Linked DNA regions of Homo sapiens: regions 1 and 2 are each linked to region 3. Evidence: fine-mapped expression QTL. A gene starts in region 3. Each other region holds a variant in brackets. All regions are shown on one strand. Distances are between the middles of the regions.

Evidence for each region. PIP is the estimated chance that this variant, and not a neighbour inherited with it, causes the effect.
Region 1: its variant is fine-mapped to the expression of MADCAM1-AS1 in stomach (GTEx, PIP 0.95).
Region 2: its variant is fine-mapped to the expression of MADCAM1-AS1 in skeletal muscle (GTEx, PIP above 0.99). The same link has a PIP of 0.9 or more in anterior cingulate cortex, atrial appendage, breast, caudate, cerebellar hemisphere and esophagus muscle.

Annotation. Positions count from the first base shown.
Region 1 is chr19:496,664-502,284 of GRCh38, reverse strand. It overlaps MADCAM1 (mucosal vascular addressin cell adhesion molecule 1), which reads right to left. Exons shown (of 5, transcript NM_130760.3): 2 at 4,168-4,452; 3 at 3,460-3,789; 4 at 356-616. MADCAM1-AS1 (MADCAM1 antisense RNA 1) reads left to right here. Exons shown (of 3, transcript XR_936221.4): 2 at 661-744; 3 at 2,425-2,516. Among named protein-coding and RNA genes, the nearest start is that of MADCAM1, 3.0 kb to the right of the region's middle. The variant C/T (reference allele first, on the strand shown) is at 2,307.
Region 2 is chr19:485,331-490,951 of GRCh38, reverse strand. It overlaps LOC124904608 (a long non-coding RNA gene), which reads right to left and starts at 1,786. Exons shown (of 2, transcript XR_007067072.1): 1 at 1,247-1,786; 2 at 882-1,086. It also overlaps a transcript of CIMAP1D not described here. RefSeq lists silencers at 1,397-1,446, 1,517-2,146 and enhancers at 974-1,475, 4,781-5,299. The variant C/G (reference allele first, on the strand shown) is at 2,476.
Region 3 is chr19:505,176-510,726 of GRCh38, reverse strand. It overlaps MADCAM1-AS1 (MADCAM1 antisense RNA 1), which reads left to right and starts at 2,838. Exons shown (of 3, transcript XR_936221.4): 1 at 2,838-3,351. It overlaps TPGS1 (tubulin polyglutamylase complex subunit 1), which reads right to left and starts at 3,230. Exons shown (of 2, transcript NM_033513.3): 1 at 2,883-3,230. The coding sequence starts at 3,220. MADCAM1 (mucosal vascular addressin cell adhesion molecule 1) reads right to left here. Exons shown (of 5, transcript NM_130760.3): 5 at 5,384-5,551. RefSeq lists silencers at 1-98, 3,955-4,084 and enhancers at 1-247, 3,085-3,424, 3,297-4,154.

The DNA.
Region 1 (5,621 bases), 8.5 kb after region 3:
CATTGTTTCTGCTTCTATTCCAAAGATTCTTCTAGTCTACAAGGCTTAGAATTTACCAAGTGCCTTGACATCTACACAGTCCCTGATGTTTACAAAAAGGACCCACAGTTAAGAGAAGCCCACTGGACAGACAAGGAAACTGAGGCTGGGCAGATGGGGAAACCGAGGCTGGAAAGACGGGGAAACCGAGGCTGGGCAGATGGGGAAACCGAGGCTGGGCAGACGGGGAAACTGAGGCTGGGCAGACGGGGAAACCAAGGCTGGGCAGGGCAATTTCTTGTCTAAAGTCTTCATCCAAGGAACCTCTCGCTCTCAGCCCTTCCCACCCTCCCTGCCCCCAGGGACCAGAACTCACAGCCTGTTGGGATCACTTCTCCCTGCGTGGGCCCAGCCTGGGAGATCTCAGGGCGGCGAGTCCTGGTGGAGCCTGGGCTCCTGGGGGTGTGTGTGGAGCCCTGCTGGGGGGCGGGCTCCGGGGAGGTCTTGTCGGGAGGCTCCGGGGAGGTGGTGTCGGGAGGCTCCTGGGAGGTGGTGTCGGGAGACTCCGGGGAGGTGGTGTCGGGAGACTCCGGGGAGGTGGTGTCGGGAGGCTCCGGGGAGGTCGGGCTGTGCAGGACTGGAAACAGAGTGAGGGTTTTTTTTTCCTCTCTGCTGCCCCAGGCTTGCCTCTCCTGCCTCAATCTCCGCATCTGGATGAAGGGCTTGGACCAGAACCCCTCCAAGCCCCTTCCCTGGACCACTCTGGTGAGTCACATTTCCATTTATTCTTTTTTTTTTTTTTTTTTTTTTTTTTTTTTTTGAGACAGAGTTTTGCTCTTGTTACCCAGGCTGGAGTGCAGTGGCGCAATCTTGGCTCACCACAACCTCCGCTCCTCAGGTTCAAGCGATTCCCCTGCCTCAGCCTCTGGAGTAGCTGGGATCACAGGCGCTTGCCACCACACCTGGCTAATTTTGTATTTTTAGTAGAGATGGGGTTTCTCCATGTTGGTCAGGCTGGCCTTGAACTCCCAACCTCAGGTGATCTACCCACCTCGGCCTCCCAAAGTGCTGGGATTACAGGCGTGAGCCACCACGCCCGGCCTGGTTTTTTTTTTTAGAGATGGGGTCTCACTCTGTCGTGCAGGCTGGAGTGCAGTGTTGTGATCATGGATCACTGCAGCCTCAACCTCCCAGGCTGAAGCCATCCTCCCCACTCAGCCTCCTGAGTAGCTGGGACCACAGGTGTGCAATACCACGCCCAGCTAATTTTTAAATTTTTTTGTAGAGATGGGAGGTCTCGTATGTTGCCCAAGCTGGTCTGGAACTCCTGTACTCAAGTGATCCTCCCGCCTCAGCCTCCCATGGCTGGCCTACATTTTTGTTTCTATTCGGCTTACTGTTCTAGTTGATAAAGCCTAGAATTTGTTGTTGTTGTTGAGATGGAGTCTCGTTCTGTTGCCCAGGCTGGAGTGCAATGGTGCGATCTCGGCTCACTGCAACCTCCGCCTCCCGGGTTCAAGCGATTCTCCCGCCTCAGCCTCCTGAGTAGCTGGAATTACAGGCGCTCACCACCACGCCAGGCTAATATTTGTATTTTTAGTAGGGGACGGGGTTTCACCATGTTGGTCAGGCTAGTCTCGATCTCCTAATCTCGTGATCCACCCACCTCAGCTTCCCAAAGTGCTGGGATTACAAGCATGAGCCACCGCACCTGGCCACATCTAATTTTTGTATTTTTAATAGAGATGGGGTTTCACTATGTTGGCCAGGCTGGTCTTGAACTCCTGACCTCAGGTAATCCACCCACCTCAGCCTCCCAAAGTGCTGGGATTACAGGCGTGAGCCCGGCCTAAAGCCTATAATTTATAAAGTGCTTTGAAATCCACATGGTCCCTGAAATTTACAAAGGACCCACAGTCAGGGAAGTCCACTGGACAGATGAGGAAGCTGAGGCACCACAGTGGGCAGGATGGGAGTCCGGGCATTCCAGGTCCCCCACTCACTGGCAACATCACCCCAGCAGCCTCCTTAATCTCCACGTGCCTCAGTTTCCTCAACTGTCAAAGGGGTGAGAGTCACCTCTTTGGGCTGCCCTGAGAGCGAGTGGGTCCCGCGTTTATTATGATGGGCTGTGGACGAGGAGAGTTGGGAGGAGGCTGGCGTGGAGAGAGAAGGTGCTTGGGGGCTTTCTGCCCTGGCCTTCTGCTCCATCCCCTGTGGGACTGATGGGGAGACTGAGGCCCGTGAGGGCCCGTGTTCTGTAAAATATCCCTCAAATCCAGCCTCCTCTCTGCCCACCCCAGCCCCACCCCCACCACAAAGACCTC[C/T]CGGGTCTCCCAGCTTCTGCTTTATCCCCGGGAGCCCTTTGCTTGAAACTCACGACCTCACGTCCATTAACATGGGTATCAGGGTGCCCCATGGGAGGACAAATCCCTTTTTCTTTAGTGGGAGAAGCCGGCAGGGGCTTCGGGATTGGACAGAGCGTGAAGGGAGCACCGCCAGGGCACCGGCCCACATTAAATGTCTTCATCCGAGCATTCAGCAAGGGTTTATTGAGCACCTGCTATGCCCCAGGCCCTGTTCTAGCTTCTGTGGACACAGCCGTGCGCGACACAAGATTCCCACCTGGGGAGCCACAGTGGGAGAAGGTCATGGAAAAGAGAATGTACGGGACTGGGGGATGTCAGATGTTATCCAAGGTGTCAAGAAACGAAACAGAAGGGAAAGGGGGCTCACACGCGTGTGCGTGTTTGTACACGCGTGTGCCTGTGTGCCTGTGTTTGTACACGCGTGTGGGTGTGTGCGTTTGTTCCCGTGTGTGCTTGTGTGCCTGTTTGTACACGCGTGTGCGTGTGTGCCTGTGTGCACGCGTGTGTGTGTCTGTGTTTGTACATGTGTGTGCTTGTGTGCCTATGTTTGTACACGTTGGGGATCAGGGGTTGACCCTTTAAACGGGAATCCAGGGAAGCCTCACGGAGGAGGCAACATTCTACAGAGACCTGAGGGGGAGGAGGAGAGAGCCGTGGAAAGATCCGGAAGAAGGGTATTCCCGGCAGAGGGCACAGCCGTGCAAAGGCCCCGGGGCAGGATCACGCCTGGTGTGTTGGAGGAACAGCGAGGAGGCGAGGAGGCCCGTGTGGCTGCAGCAGAATGAGGAGGGGGAGAAAGGGTGGAGGGAGGACAGGAAGGGGACAGGGTAGGTCGTGCAGGTTCCTGTGGGCCCCCGGGAGGACTTGGGCTTTGACCCCAAGGCAAGAGCCATGGAGCGCTGTGGGCAGGGGAGGGGTGGGACCTGTGCTGGGGGGCAGGTGCTCGGCAAATACATGTTGCGTCGATGAATGTCGCTGTCGCTGCGTGGGGGAATCCAGTCCTCCCAGCGCCCCACAGCACAGGTGCTGCCCCCCCACCCCCCCACCCCGTCCCGAAGTGCTTGTCAAGGCTGGCGAGCGGGTGGGTCTCCAGGGCACCCAGCGGACTCACCGGGGATGGCCTGGCGGTGGCTGAGCTCCAAGCCAGGCAGCCTCATCGTGGCCTGGCAGTAGAGGGCGGGCGGGACAGGGGTCCCCAGGGGCGGCAGCCGCCAGCGCTCTGTCACCCTGAACAGCACGTCCTCGTCCCCCTGGGGCTCCTCCTCCTCCTCCTGCACCTCCGGGCCCAGGGCTTGCGCCCCCTCCAGTTCCTGGCCCCCGACGAGCAGGGAGAAGGAGAGCGCGTTGGGGTCCACGGGCGTGACTTTGTGGGCCGTACAGGCCACCTCCGGGTCACCAGGCACCAGGGCTGCTGGGGAGACGGTCAGCTGGTCCGGGAAGGCTGTGATGGAGGGTCGGGGGTGAGGGCTGAGCCCAGAGTCAGGGCTGGACGTGATGGAGGGGCCGGAGCCCGGAGGGGCTTGGAGCTGGGGCCAAGGATGCGTGGGGGCTGCTGATGAACAGGCAGTAGGGACGGCCTGTGCGCAGGCCCCGTGGCCCCACCCTGGGAGGCTGGAATAGACAGGAGGATGGGCCAGGGCCGGCCCTGGGAGAGTTGGGGTGAGTTGGAGGGAAGCGAAGGCCGGGGACCTGGCTTCGGGGAGCTGTGCATGGAGCTGGGACCCTGCCTGCAATCTGGGAGGCTTCCAGGAAGAGGTGGCATAGGGAAGGAGCCGGGAGTCCAAGGGTCAGAGAGGCAGGGCGCGGGGGGACGCCTCACCGTACACAAGGAGCTGCACGGTGTGCTGGAAGGTGCGGCCCCCGCAGGAGCCCACGCACACGCGGGTCCCGGCCGCCGACAGCGAGGCGTTGCGCACGGTGAGGACGCTGCGGCCCGTGTCCGACTGCACCGCGCCCAGGCTGGTGTCCAGGCCCCGCCACTGCACCGAGGCCCCGCGGTCCGCGCAGGCCAGGCGGCAGGTGAGCTGGCGCGAGGCGCCCAAGGCCACGGCCACCACCGGCTCCGGGGGCTCCACCTGCAGGGGCTTCACCTGGAGGGACTGGCCTGCGGCGACCGCGGCTCTCGCTCAGCCCCGCGGAGTCCCGGACCCCGCCCCGCCACCGGCCCTGCGTCCCGCTCCACCCCCGGACCCCGCCCCGCCTCTGCCCGGTTCCCGGACCCTCCGCTGCACCCCCGGACCCCTGCCCCGCCGCTACCCGGACTCCCAGGCTCGGTCCCTGAACCCCGCCCCGACCGCCGCCTCTGCCCCAGTCCCCCGAACCCCAGCTGCCTGGAGCCAGTTTCGCTGCGGGTCAGGGGGCCGCGCGGAGCCCCGCAACTTCCCCTCTCAGCCCCTGCCTCCTCCGAGCCCCCTCCTCTGGCAGGATCACCAATCACCCCCTATCTCGGAGCCCCTTAACTCTGAGCACCCCTCGTCTCTCCCGCGCCCCCTCCGAGCCCCTCCTCTCTCCTGCGCCCCCTCTTAACTCCCTCCTCTCTCCCGCGTCCCCTCCCCGCTCACCGCGCCCCTTCCTCTCCCCCGGGCCCCCTCCCCTCTCCCGGGCCCCCCTTCTCTTCCGAACCCCCTCCCCTCTCCCGAGCCCCCTCCCCTCTCCCGAGCCCCCCTTCTCTTCCAAACCCCCTCCCCTCTCCCGCGCCCCCTCCTCTCTCCTGAGTCCTCTTCACTTTACTGCGCCCCCTGCTCTCTCCTGCGCCCCCTCCCCTCCGCGCCCCTCCTCTCTCCTGCGCCCCTTCTCTCTCCTGAGCCCCTTCTCTCTCCTGAGCCCCCTCCACTCTCCTGCGCCCCCTCCTCTCCCCTGCGCCCCTCCTCTCTCCTGCGTCCCTCCTCTCTCCTGAGCCCCCCCACTCTACTGAGCCCCCTCCCCTCTCCTGAGCCCCCTCCTAACTCCCTCCTCTCTCCCGCGTCCCCTCCCCGCTCACCGCGCCCCTTCCTCTCCCCCGAGCCCCCTCCCCTCTCCCGCGCCCCCTCCTCTCTCCCGCGCCCCCTCCACTCTCCTGCGCCCCCTCCTCTCTCCTGCGCCCCCTCCCCTCCGCGCCCCCTCCTCTCTCCCGCGCCCCCTCCTCTCTCCTGCGCCCCTCCTCTCTCCTGAGCCCCCTCCACTCTCCTGAGCCCCCTCCTCTCTCCTGCGCCCCTCCTCTCTCCTGCGTCCCTCCTCTCTCCTGAGCCCCCCCACTCTACTGAGCCCCCTCCCCTCTCCTGGGCCCCCTCCTCT
Region 2 (5,621 bases), 20 kb after region 3:
AACTTTTGCATTTTTAGTAGAGACAGGGTTTCACCATATTGGTCAGGCTAGTCTCAAACGCCTGACCTCAGGTGATCCGCCCGCCTTGGCCTCCCAAGGTGCTGGGATTACAGGCGTGAGCCACCGCGCCTGGCCAATTTTTGTATTTTTAATAGAGACGGGGTTTCCCCATGTTGGTCAGGCTGGTCTTGAACTCCCCACCTCAAGTGATCTGCCCACCTTGGGCTCCCAAAGTGCTGGATTACAGGTGTCAGCCACCGCGCCTGGCCCTGAAGCCTCCTTTCTAACACGAATATCAACTTAGAAACGGACGCAGCTATTGGAAAACATGTGCAACAGCTAGGGTTTGTGAAGCCACTTTTCCAACTAGAACTTTAGTGGCCTGAAGTGCAGGTTGAATATTTCCTGTGAGAATTAGGAAGTGGACACAAATGTGCAAAATACACACTGGGCTCTGAACGCTCAGCGTGAACAAAGAGTGTACAGCATCTCAACATGTATTGCTTATGAATCGAAAGGATAGTATTTTGGACACAGTGGATTAAATAAGATAAAGATACATCTTTGTTTTACGTTTCTTTCTTTCTTTTTTTTTTAGCTGGAGTTTCACTCTTGTCGCCCAGGCTGGAGTACAGTGGTGCTATCTCGGCTCACTGCAACCTCCACCTCACGGGTTCAAGTGATTCTACTGTGACGGCCTTCCAAGTAGGTGGGACCACAGGCATGCGCCACCACGCCCGGCTAATTTTTGTATTTTTAGTAGAGACGAGGTTTTGCCATGTTGGCCAGGCTGGTCTCAAACTCCTGACCTCAGGTGATCCACCTGCCTCGGCCTCCCACAGTGCTGGGATTACAGGCGTGAGCCAACGCGCCCGGCCTTGTTTTATGTTTCATACGATTTATTTTACTTACTACCACCCATTTCTTTTCTTCTTTCTATCGTGGCCGCCGGACGTGGGGCTCCCGCTCCGCTTCTGGGGACGCCGCTCTGGCCTCTCTCAGCACCGGGCAGGGGCCAAATGTGGGTGTTCGCCCTGGGTCGGGGTTCAGGCAGAGCCGCAGCCTCCTGGCTGGGAGGGTTCTCGCCTGCAGGCCGGCGGCCTCTGAGGACGACTCGCTCTCCATTCGCCACCCAACCCGCGCTGAGTGCTGGACATCCCGAGCGCGCTCTCCGTCCCTGCAGTTCCTAACGGGTTGGGAGGGTGGTTCTCCCCCGGCCGCAATCCCGCCCCCAGGAGGCACTAACCCTAACGTGGCATCTGGGGCCATCTGTGGTTGTCACGACTGGGAAGGGGGAGATCCTGGCCTGCACGGTCACCCACAGGCCCGACGGCCCCCGGGAGCCTGTTTCGGGTGCAGCACACCCGGGCTGGATCGAGCACGGTCGGGGAGGATGCGGGGCTGGGCCAAGGCCCTCGGCTCTGCAGGGAGGACGGAGAGCGGGTCCGGGGGGTCCGGGGAGGGAACGGGGCCGAGGCTCTGCGTCCACTGCCGGGCCGATGGGCCATGGGCTGCGAGGGCGGGTCGGGCGTAGAGGGTCTGGCTGGGAGGGCGGGTCAGAGGTCGGGGCCGCGGGCTGCGAGGGCGGGTCAGAGGTCGGGGCCGCGGGCTGCGACGGCGGGTCGGGAGTCGGGGCTCGGCCTGCGAGGGTGGGTCAAGGGTAGGGGGTCCCGGTCGGGGCCGCGCTCAGCACTCAAAGCGCCGCCATCCCTGCTGATGACATTCTCGACCCGCAGGGCGCAGCTGACCAGCCGCTCCCCCTCCTTTTCCGCGGGTGCAGCTCACTGGCCCTGCCACTGCGCGCGCACCCACCCCGCCCACAGCTCCCGGCAGCTCCCGCGCGGCCCCCGCAGCTGAACCACAACTCCCGCCATGCCGCGGAGCGCGGGGCGCCGGGGCGTGTGGCCCACAAGGCTTTGCGCGCTGGCGGGGCCGCTCTAGCCCGCGGTCCTCCGAGTTCGTGGCGGGCTGATGCGGGCTTGGGGCGGGCGGCGCGGACGCCCTGGCGGCTGTCTCGCCCCGTGGTCGGTCTCCTCGCGTTCCCACTGCGGGGCGCCCCGGCTGCCCTTGCGTGGGGCCCGGCACGGGGCGGCCGAGGGGGCGTCCCCGCCGCGAGTCTTCCAGCGCGCTGGTCCCGGGAGGCCTGGCCGTTCGCCCAAGGAGCCTGGTGTCCCCGGGCGGAGACTGGGAAGCCGGGTCCTGTTCCCCGGCGCTGGGCTCGCTGCGGGGGTCGGGGCCGCAGGGCCCGGTCGGGGATCCAGGTTCCGGGACGCGGATTCTGGAGTAGGGGCTGCGGGGCTTCCGGCCCGCTTCGCGGGTCAGGGTCACCGGGAGGCCGTGGTTGCGTTGGGGGTACCCGGACGTCAGTCCCAGCAGCGCGAGGGACGAGGGCGCTCGTTAGTTCCACACTGATTTACTTGTTATTTTTTTGAGACGGAGTCTCGCTCTGTCGCCCAGGCTGGAGTGCAGTGGCGC[C/G]ATCTCGGCTCACCGCAAGCTCCGCCTCCCGGGTTCACGCCATTCTCCTGCCTCAGCCTCCCGAGTAGCTGGGACTACAGGCGCCTGCCACCACGCCCGGCTAATTGTTTGTATTTTTAGTAGAGACGGGGTTTCACCGTGTTAGCCAGGATGGTCTCGATCTCCTGACCTCGTGATCTGCCCGCCTCAGCCTCCCGAGGAGCTGGGATTACAGGCTTCAGCCACCAAGCCCGGCCTTTTTTTTTTGTATTTTTAGTAGAGATAGTGTAGCAGGAAGAGCCGCAGACAAAACTCCTCAGACACCCAGTTAGAGAAGGAAGCGGTTTATTCGGCCGGGGCCATCGGCAAGACTCCTGTCCCAAGAGCCGAGCTCCCCGAGTGAGCAATTCCTGTCCCTCTTCAGGGCTCACAACTCTCAGGGGGTCCGCGTGAGAGGGTCGTGATCGATTGAACAAGCAGGGGGTACGTGACTGGGGGCTGCATGCACCGGCAATCAGATCGGAACAGAACAGGACAAGGGTTTTCACAGTGCTTTTCCATACAATGTCTGGAATCTATAGATAACGTAACCCAGTAGGTCAGGGGTCGCTCTTTAACTACCAGGCCCAGGGCACAGCGCCGGGCTGTCTGCCTGTGGATTTCATTTCTGCCTTTTAGTTTTTACTTCTTTCTTTGGAGGCAGAAATTGGGCATAAGACAATATGAGGGATGGTCTCCTCCCTTAATAGAGTTTCACCATGTTGGCCAGGCTGGTCTCGAACTCCTGACCTCAGCTGATCCCCCCTGCCTCATGCTTGTTATTATTTTGACACAGGGTCTCACTCTGTGGCCCAGGCTGGAGCGCAGTGGTGCGATCTCCACTCACTGCAACCTCCGCCTCCTGAGCTCAAGCAATCCTCCCGCCTCGGCCTTCCAAAGTGTTGGGACCACAGGCACACGTCATGCGCCCTGCCAGCACATCTTTATTGAGTGCCTGCTGTATGCCAAGCGTTGTTTTAAGTGCCAAGGAGACAGCAGAGTGCAAGGTGGGCTGACCTCGGCCCGAAGGAGCTTACATTCTAGTGAGCAGCAGGGAAGAGAGACCATGAGCCAGGCTAGTTATGCCATAAACCTCGGGCATAATACCGAAGTGGTGCTGTGCGGAGAAATGTTGAACAGCTGGCTCTCCAAGGGAAAAGGCCCTCACTTGCAGCGCACGCCGCCCCCTGTGTTGTAAATACTCCCATCGTGGCTGCCAACATGAGCCAACCAGCTCACAGATCGCCGCGAACTTCACAGTGGGCTCAGGAGCTGGCATGAGCAGCTCCAGCCGCCGCTGCAATAGGTGAGGCGTGGAGAGTGCTGCTGGGAAGAAGGAAAAGGCAGGGAAGGGGGCAGGCAGCATGATGATAGGCAGGTTGCAGGATCAAATCTGTGGTCCCGATAGGCCGGGCATGGCGGTTCACACCTGTAATCCCAGCACTTTGGGAGGCTGAGGTGGGCGGATCACTTGAGGTCAGGAGTTTGAGACCAGCCTGGCCAACATGGTGAAACCCCATCTCTATTTCTTTCCTTCTTTTTTTTGAGATGGAGTCTTGCTCTGTCGCCCAGGCTGGAGTGCACTGGCACAATCTCGGCTCACTACAAGCTCCGCCTCCCGGGTTCACGTCATTCTTCTGCCTCAGCCTCCTGTGTAGCTGGGACTACAGGCGCCTGCCACCACGCCTGGCTAATTTTTTGTATTTTTAGTAGAGACGGGGTTTCACTGTATTAGCCAGGATGGTCTCGATCTCCTGATCTCGTGATCTGCTCGCCTCAGCCTCCCAAAGTGCTGGGATTACAGGCGTGAGCCACCGCTCCCGGCCCCATCTCTATTAAAAAAGACAAAAATTAGCTGGGTGTGGTGACGGGCGCCTGTAATCCCAGCTACTTGGGAGGCTGAGGCAGGAGAATCGCCTGAACCCACCAGGCGGAGGTTGCAGTGAGCCGAGATTGCGCCACTACCCTCCAGCCTGGGTGATAGAGCAAGACTCCATCTCAGAAAAACAACAGAAACAAAAAATCAATCAATCAATCAGTGGTCCAAGGAAGATCCTGGAGGTGGAGAGATTTGAGCAAGGCCTTCCTGGAGGGGGAGGGAGTTGGACCGGGTGTATCAGGCAGAATGTACGGTGAGTGCAGAGGCTGAGTCCGGAGGGACCAACGCAGCCAGAGAGGGCAGGAAGGACCTGGGCTTGTAGGACCTTGCAGGCTACAGCAGAGCCCACTAGGACCCCTCTCCAGCCCCCCAAATCCTCGGAATACAAGCCCTTCCTTCCTCTGAGCTTCGGTGTCCTCGTCTGTAACATGAGGACTTGCCAGGCATGGGCTGGGTGCCCAGCAGAGCCTGAGAGCTGGTCCTGTCCTCACTGTCCCACGGGGACAGCAGGCTCTCTCTGGATGAGGATGGAGGGGAGCTGGCAGGTTCTCTGTGTCCTTGCGGGAAGAACAAGCCTTCCTTGTTAGAGTCTCCCGGGAACAAAGGGGCGGGCAGCAGCAGGGCGCGTGAGTCTGAGTCAGGGGGCTGGCCGCCGGACAAAGGACAGCAGTGAGCAGCCTCAGGGAAGTGGGGAGTGGCAGATCACGGAGGCTGGGAGCATGAGCTGACCCTGGACGGGCCGGTGGCAGCAGCCACAAACACCTGGCCTCCCCCTCTCCTGCTGTGCCGTGTGCCAGGGACACAGAAACAGCAGGTCATCGGAGGAACCCGGCCTCCTGGGAGCTGCCTCCCAGCTGTCGCACCCTCATCTGCAGCCGGAGGATGTGTTTTAGGAAAGAATGTCGGGAACTTGGGGCTGGCACCGTGGCTCACACCTGCCCTCCCGGTGCTTTAGGGGGCTGAGGTGGGAGGATCGCTAACCCCAGGAGGTCAGGGCCGCCTCATTCCCACCATTCTCTGATCACCCTTCTCCACCGTCAGTGAGCTGTGATCGCGCCAGCCTGGATGGTGGAGTGAGACCTTGTCTCTAGAGAAAAGAACGGTGGGACTTGGATCGGCAGCAGCCACAGCAGTCATGTCTGTCATCTGGACTATTGTAGAGCTTCATTCCACTCACTGGCTCAGCAGGCACTCACTGCGCACCTGTTCTGGGCAGGCGGTGTTTGGGATGCCCAGGGCGCCACGGGGC
Region 3 (5,551 bases):
AGGAGGCCTCCGGGGCTGCACTCTGGGGCTCTCTGACCCCAGCTCTGCCCTCGGTGGCCGTGTGGCCTTCAGCAAGTCATGTAACGTCTGTGTGTGTGCTCCAGGGGGCCTTGGAGACGACCAGGAAGGTGGCAGGAGGGGGACACTGTGGCTGCCATCACCAGCCCTGGCGGCCGGAGCTTGCCATTTCTCAAAAGAAGGTGCCAGGGAGGATCTGGGGTGACTTCTCCCCCAGCCTACCACGGTGATGCTCTCAGGAGCAGCCCCAGTCAGCCCCTCAGCCTTTGGGGGTCAACACACTGGACTGAGTGGGGACAAATCTGCCAGGCTCTGAGCTTCTCTTTTTTTTTTTTTGAGACAGAGTCTCGCTCTGTCGCCCAGGCTGGAGTGCAGTGGCGCGATCTCGGCTCAATGCAAGCTCCGCCTCCTGGGTTCATGCCATTCTCCTGCCTCAGCCTCCCGAGTAGCTGGGACTACAGGCGCCCGCCACCACACCCGGCTAATTTTTTGTATTTTTAGTAGAGACGGGGTTTCACCGTGTTAGCCAGGATGGTCTCGATCTCCTGACCTTGTGATCCGCCCGCCTCGGCCTCCCAAAGTGCTGGGATGACAGGCGTGAGCCACCGCGCCCGGCTGCTCTGGGCTTCTCTTCCTGACTGGTCAGGTGACCTCAGGGGTTCCTGACGGTCCAAGGATGGAGGGGCGGCCGGAGCTGCCTGCTGGGAGGACGGGAGCAGGCCTGGCTCCATGAGCACAGAATCAGATGCCACGCAGGTCTGTGCACCTGTCTTCTGCATTCCCCACTGGCTGTGTCTCTGGGGAGCCCAGGCGAGCCCAGGGCCGGGATGCATCTGCCACCAGCACCACCCTTGCCCTGAGTCCCTGCTATGAGAACTCTTCCAGCCAATGGCTCCACTCCTGTCCTGGGGTGACTGGTGCCCACCAAACTCACGCCCATCCAGAACCTCAGACTGAGAGCTTATTTGAGACAGCAGCTTTGCAGATGTAGGCGGTTGAGGTCACACTGGAGTAGGGTGGGGCCTAGTGGTGTCCTTATGAGGGAACACAGAACAGAGACACACAGGAGGCCACGTGACGACGGAGGCAGAGACTGCAGCAATGTGGCCACAAGCCAAAGACTGCTGGCCGCCACTGGAGGCTGGGGAGGCAAGGAAGGCTCCTTCCCTGGAGCCTCCAGAGGGAGTGTGGTCCTCCTGACACTCCGATTTCAGACTTCTGCCCTCCAGAACTGTGAGAGAATAAATTTCTGTTGTTTTAAGCCACTAAGTTGGAGGTAATTTGTTCCAGCAGCCCTCGGAAATTAATATAAATATAAATATCCTCATCTGCAGTGTCTACGGGGTGAGTGGCTTGTGCAGTGCTCAACCTGAACAACCATACGTGGTGGGCCTGCTGTTGACCCCTTTTCCTCCTTGGGAGATTCTCTTCCGGATGTCCTGGGAGGCCATCTTCCTCCTGCTCCCCGTTCACCTCTGGTCTCACGTTCTCACCCTCTCTGGTGGGCTCTCTGGGCTAGGTGCCCTCAGAGTGGGGTCCTGAGCTCTTCTCATCTCTCCTGAAGACTTCAGGACCCCTCCAGTTCAGTCTTCTGTCCTGGCCCCACGTCAGTTGCAGACGCTTCTTTCTACCTTCCTGTCTCCAGGCTCCTCCCAGCCTCCAACTTAATCCGCAAGTGGCTCTGGCAGCTTCTTCAAACCAGGGGCCTTCCATCGCAGTAAACGGCTCCACTGACCCTCTGGGCCTGCCCTTGCCCGCTCCCCTCCCACCTGGCTCCAGCAAATCATCGGGCGGGGCCTTCAGAGCCACTGGGCCACCGGAGCAAGTCTGCTCCTTGTCCAGGTACCCAACACCCTGCCACCCTTATCTGAGTATGATCTTGGACACCTGTGCACCCTGAACGTGGTAGGGGGGACACTCCCCATCTCTCTTCTCCCCCCGAACTTCTCTGGGACTCTGGCGAGGGCTGCCATGGTGGGCGCTTATGCCCTGGTTATGAGGCTGAAAGGGCACCTTTGCTTGGCATCCTTCCCTGCCTGCTCTTCCCACCCCCTTCCTGGGTTCTCTTGGGCGCACCCCCTTGTAAAATCACCTGCACACACAATGCCTACCTCAGGCTCCGCTTCTGGGGACCCCCCCCCCAACAAAAGACATCAGCCCATCCATCCCCAACGCCAACAGATAGTCCCCAACCACCTTCCCTGGGCTCAGAACTGGCCCCAGCCAGGGGACACCGCGCGTAGGCACCTGCAGCCTCGCATGCTTCAGCCAAATTCCGTGGCTTTCCCGCCTCCCGTGTGCCCCACACTCGGGGTCTAAATTTGCACCTGCTGGGCCTCTTCCCTGCAACCCGCCCGCACATCGCCAGGCTCTTCCAGGAATCCCCACCTGCCCGCTGGGAGCCTGTCCCCTAAGATGGGGGCCCTGGGTGACTGCGCTGCTCTCTGTAAATATTCACGTTCTGGCTGAATGGACGGGGATAACATGAGGCTGCTAAGGAGGCGACTAGGAGGACCTGGCTCGGGGGCTGGCTCTGCGACCTCGGGCCAAGTCCTCTTGAGCTGCACGATTTTGAAAATCATGAACTGCAAGGGGAAACTCAGCACCTGCAAAAAGGCATCACAGAAGGCGAAGCCGGCCAGAAGGACTCGCGCCGCATGCAGCGCGCTGCCTAGCGCCGGACCGAAGCCCGGACCCTCCAGCCCACCTTGTCCGATCCATCCCACCCAAGAAGGCATCGCGCACTACAACTCCCAGCAAGCCCCGGGCCCCTGCGCCGGCGCTGCGGGTAGGGAGCCGCGCGCGGCATGCTGGGAGTTGAAGTCCATCGCTGCCCCACCCGCCCAAGCCGGCCCACTGCGCACCTCTGGGAGTGGTGGGCCAGGCGAAGGTGCCATAGCGCGCGGCCCAGGCGCTGCTGCTGCAGCAGGAGCTGGCCCGGGGGCTCCCCGGCGCCGCCGTTTACAGGCGAGCGCAGGCCCATGTTCTCGAAGTAGTGAGCCAGGAAGGCGATCGGCTCCTCGGGCCGCGCCTCCAGCACCTTCAGCAGGGCCGCACGTAGCATTTCCGTCACGCCGACCTGCCGCAGGAAGTCCTCCTCGCTCTCGGCCGCCCCCGCCGCCCGGGATACCGACTGGCGGCCGCTGTCCGTGAAACCGGCCGGCGGTGGTACCGCTTGCCGCCGCTTCTCCACTGCCGCCATCTTCGCTGAGGGCAGCGGGACCGGAAGCACCGCCATATTCCACTGTGCGCTAGAGCCCCCCCAAGGCGGCCATCTTGATTAAGGGCAGAGGGCACCGGTATCCCGCTGGGAGACTTTGGGAAGTGACAAGGGTACGCTACCACTTTCCTTGTGTCCTTATTGGCACTCTCTCTTCTCCTCCCTCTTTGTGTATATTGATTGGCTCTCCTGGCTTTGGCCTCGGTCCTGAATTTTGCCAGACTCCAAAATGGCTGCCTCGGAAGTGCTTCGTTTCTGGCACAAAGCCGGATTGCTTGCCATTTGGGTAGTGAGCGAGTCCTTCATTAGCATGGTCTCCTAGCAACCAGTCTCCCTGGTTAGCAGAGAAGCCTGACGGAGCATGCGCGGGGCTGGACCTGCCCAGGACTGCTGGACCCAGCCCCGCGCCCGGCCCCCAGACCCTTTTCTCATGTTCATCTCTGAGCCTTGGTGCTGGGGGTCGAGCTCAGCCTGGCCTTCCGCCTAACTCAGTCAACGTCTGAGTGCGTAGCTCACCTCGTGGGAGAAGCCCCCTCCCCAGCTCCGCTGCAGCTGCGCTGAGCCCCTATTGGCGGCCACACGGGCGAGCATCCCGCGCTGTTACCCCCTGACCGCCAGAGGGAGCTTTCTGACACCGCAGCCTCCAGAGCTGTAAACTCTGCCATGGCTCTCCAGGGCCCCCGGGCTGGCACCTCCAGGCCTTCATCGCCTGACCTCGCTTCCGGCCGCCCTCCCGGCCCTCCCAACCCTCCGCAGCCCGCAGCCACCTCAAAACACAAGCAGTCTCCTCCATAAGCCGCCTCTGGGTGTGTTTCCCCAGGCGACCTCTGTGGATCTTCCCTCACTGCTTTCGGGGACTCCTGGTTAAGCTTCTCACCGAGGAAACCACTAAGCCCTCGCGTTTCCCCGCCCCGGGCAGAGCTTGCTGGGTGCCGTCCCCGTCCCTCAGGGGCGTTGCCCCGGGCAGGGGGCAATGAGAGCTGTTTGCCGGGGGACCGTTCCACCATCCTCCCAGCACAGGAATCTCTGGCGGGCAGACCAAATGCCCTTTGTAAAACGTGAAGTAGAGGTTCCTCTTCAAATGAGACTTTCCTCCCCATCTAATTAGGAATAAATAGTAACTTCTCTTAGAAGCAAAATGTATTCAAAGGCCTGTGGTAGGCCGGGCGCGGTGGCTCACGCCTGTCATCCCAGCACTTTGGGAGGCCGAGGCGGGCGGATCACGAGGTCAGGAGATCGAGACCATCCCGGCTAACACGGTGAAACCCCGTCTCTACTAAAAATACAAAAAATTAGCCAGGCGTGGTGGCGGGCGCCTGTAGTCCCAGCTACTCGGGAGGCTGAGGCAGGAGAATGGCGTGAACCCGGGAGGCGGAGCTTGCAAGTGAGCCGAGATCGCGCCACTGCACTCCAGCCTGGGCGACAGAGCGAGACTCTGTCTCAAAAAACAAACAAACAAAAGACCTGTGCTAACATTCTTTGTTAATTAATTGTTAATGTTATATTGAATATATATAATGTAATAAGGAAATCAACATACTTTATGTTCTTAGTGCCCACAATGTAGGCTAAATATCTGCCCTGGCATGCTTATACTGGTCCAAGCAAGCATTAGGTCATAACCTGTTCCTCTTCCTTATTTGAAGGTGTTTTTACCTTTCTTAGCATTCCACAAGCTACTTCTTCCTTCCTTTGTTCTCCTCTGCCTTTGCCTCTTTTTAAAAGTTCCAAGCTGCTAGCCGATCGGGATAAATACAGAATGTGAGGTCCCGTTCCAGCCAATGGAAACCGTCCCGTTCCAGCCAATGGAAACCGGACAGAGCAGTAGGGTGGACGCGTCAGGTTATAAATGACCCTGTCTCCTTTGTTCTGGATACTCTCGTGGCAAAACTGCTGGCCAGTGTACCCTTTCTGCAGAAAGTAAAACAGTGGCCTTGCTGAGGAAATGACATTTATATTCAAGTGCTATTTCTTTACGGCACCGGGGAACAAGCATTTCTAACACTTTCTTCTCCAGCCCCGGACTGTGGGATGAGGGAGATGGAGCCATCAGGGCAGGACCCACAGTCAACCCTCTGCTGTCCGGAGCCCTCAGACCTCTCCTCTCCACGGAGTGGGTGTCAACTGAGAAAACTGACACGTTTGTATCATTTTAGGAGGTTTATTTGCCAAAGCCTCAGGAGGTCCTGACGACAGGGGCCCAGGGTGGTCAGGGCACAGCTTGGTCTTACGCATTTTTAGGGAGACGTGAGACATGAATCAATGTATGTAAAAAGTACGTGGTTCCGTCCAGAAAGGTGGGGACCACTCAGG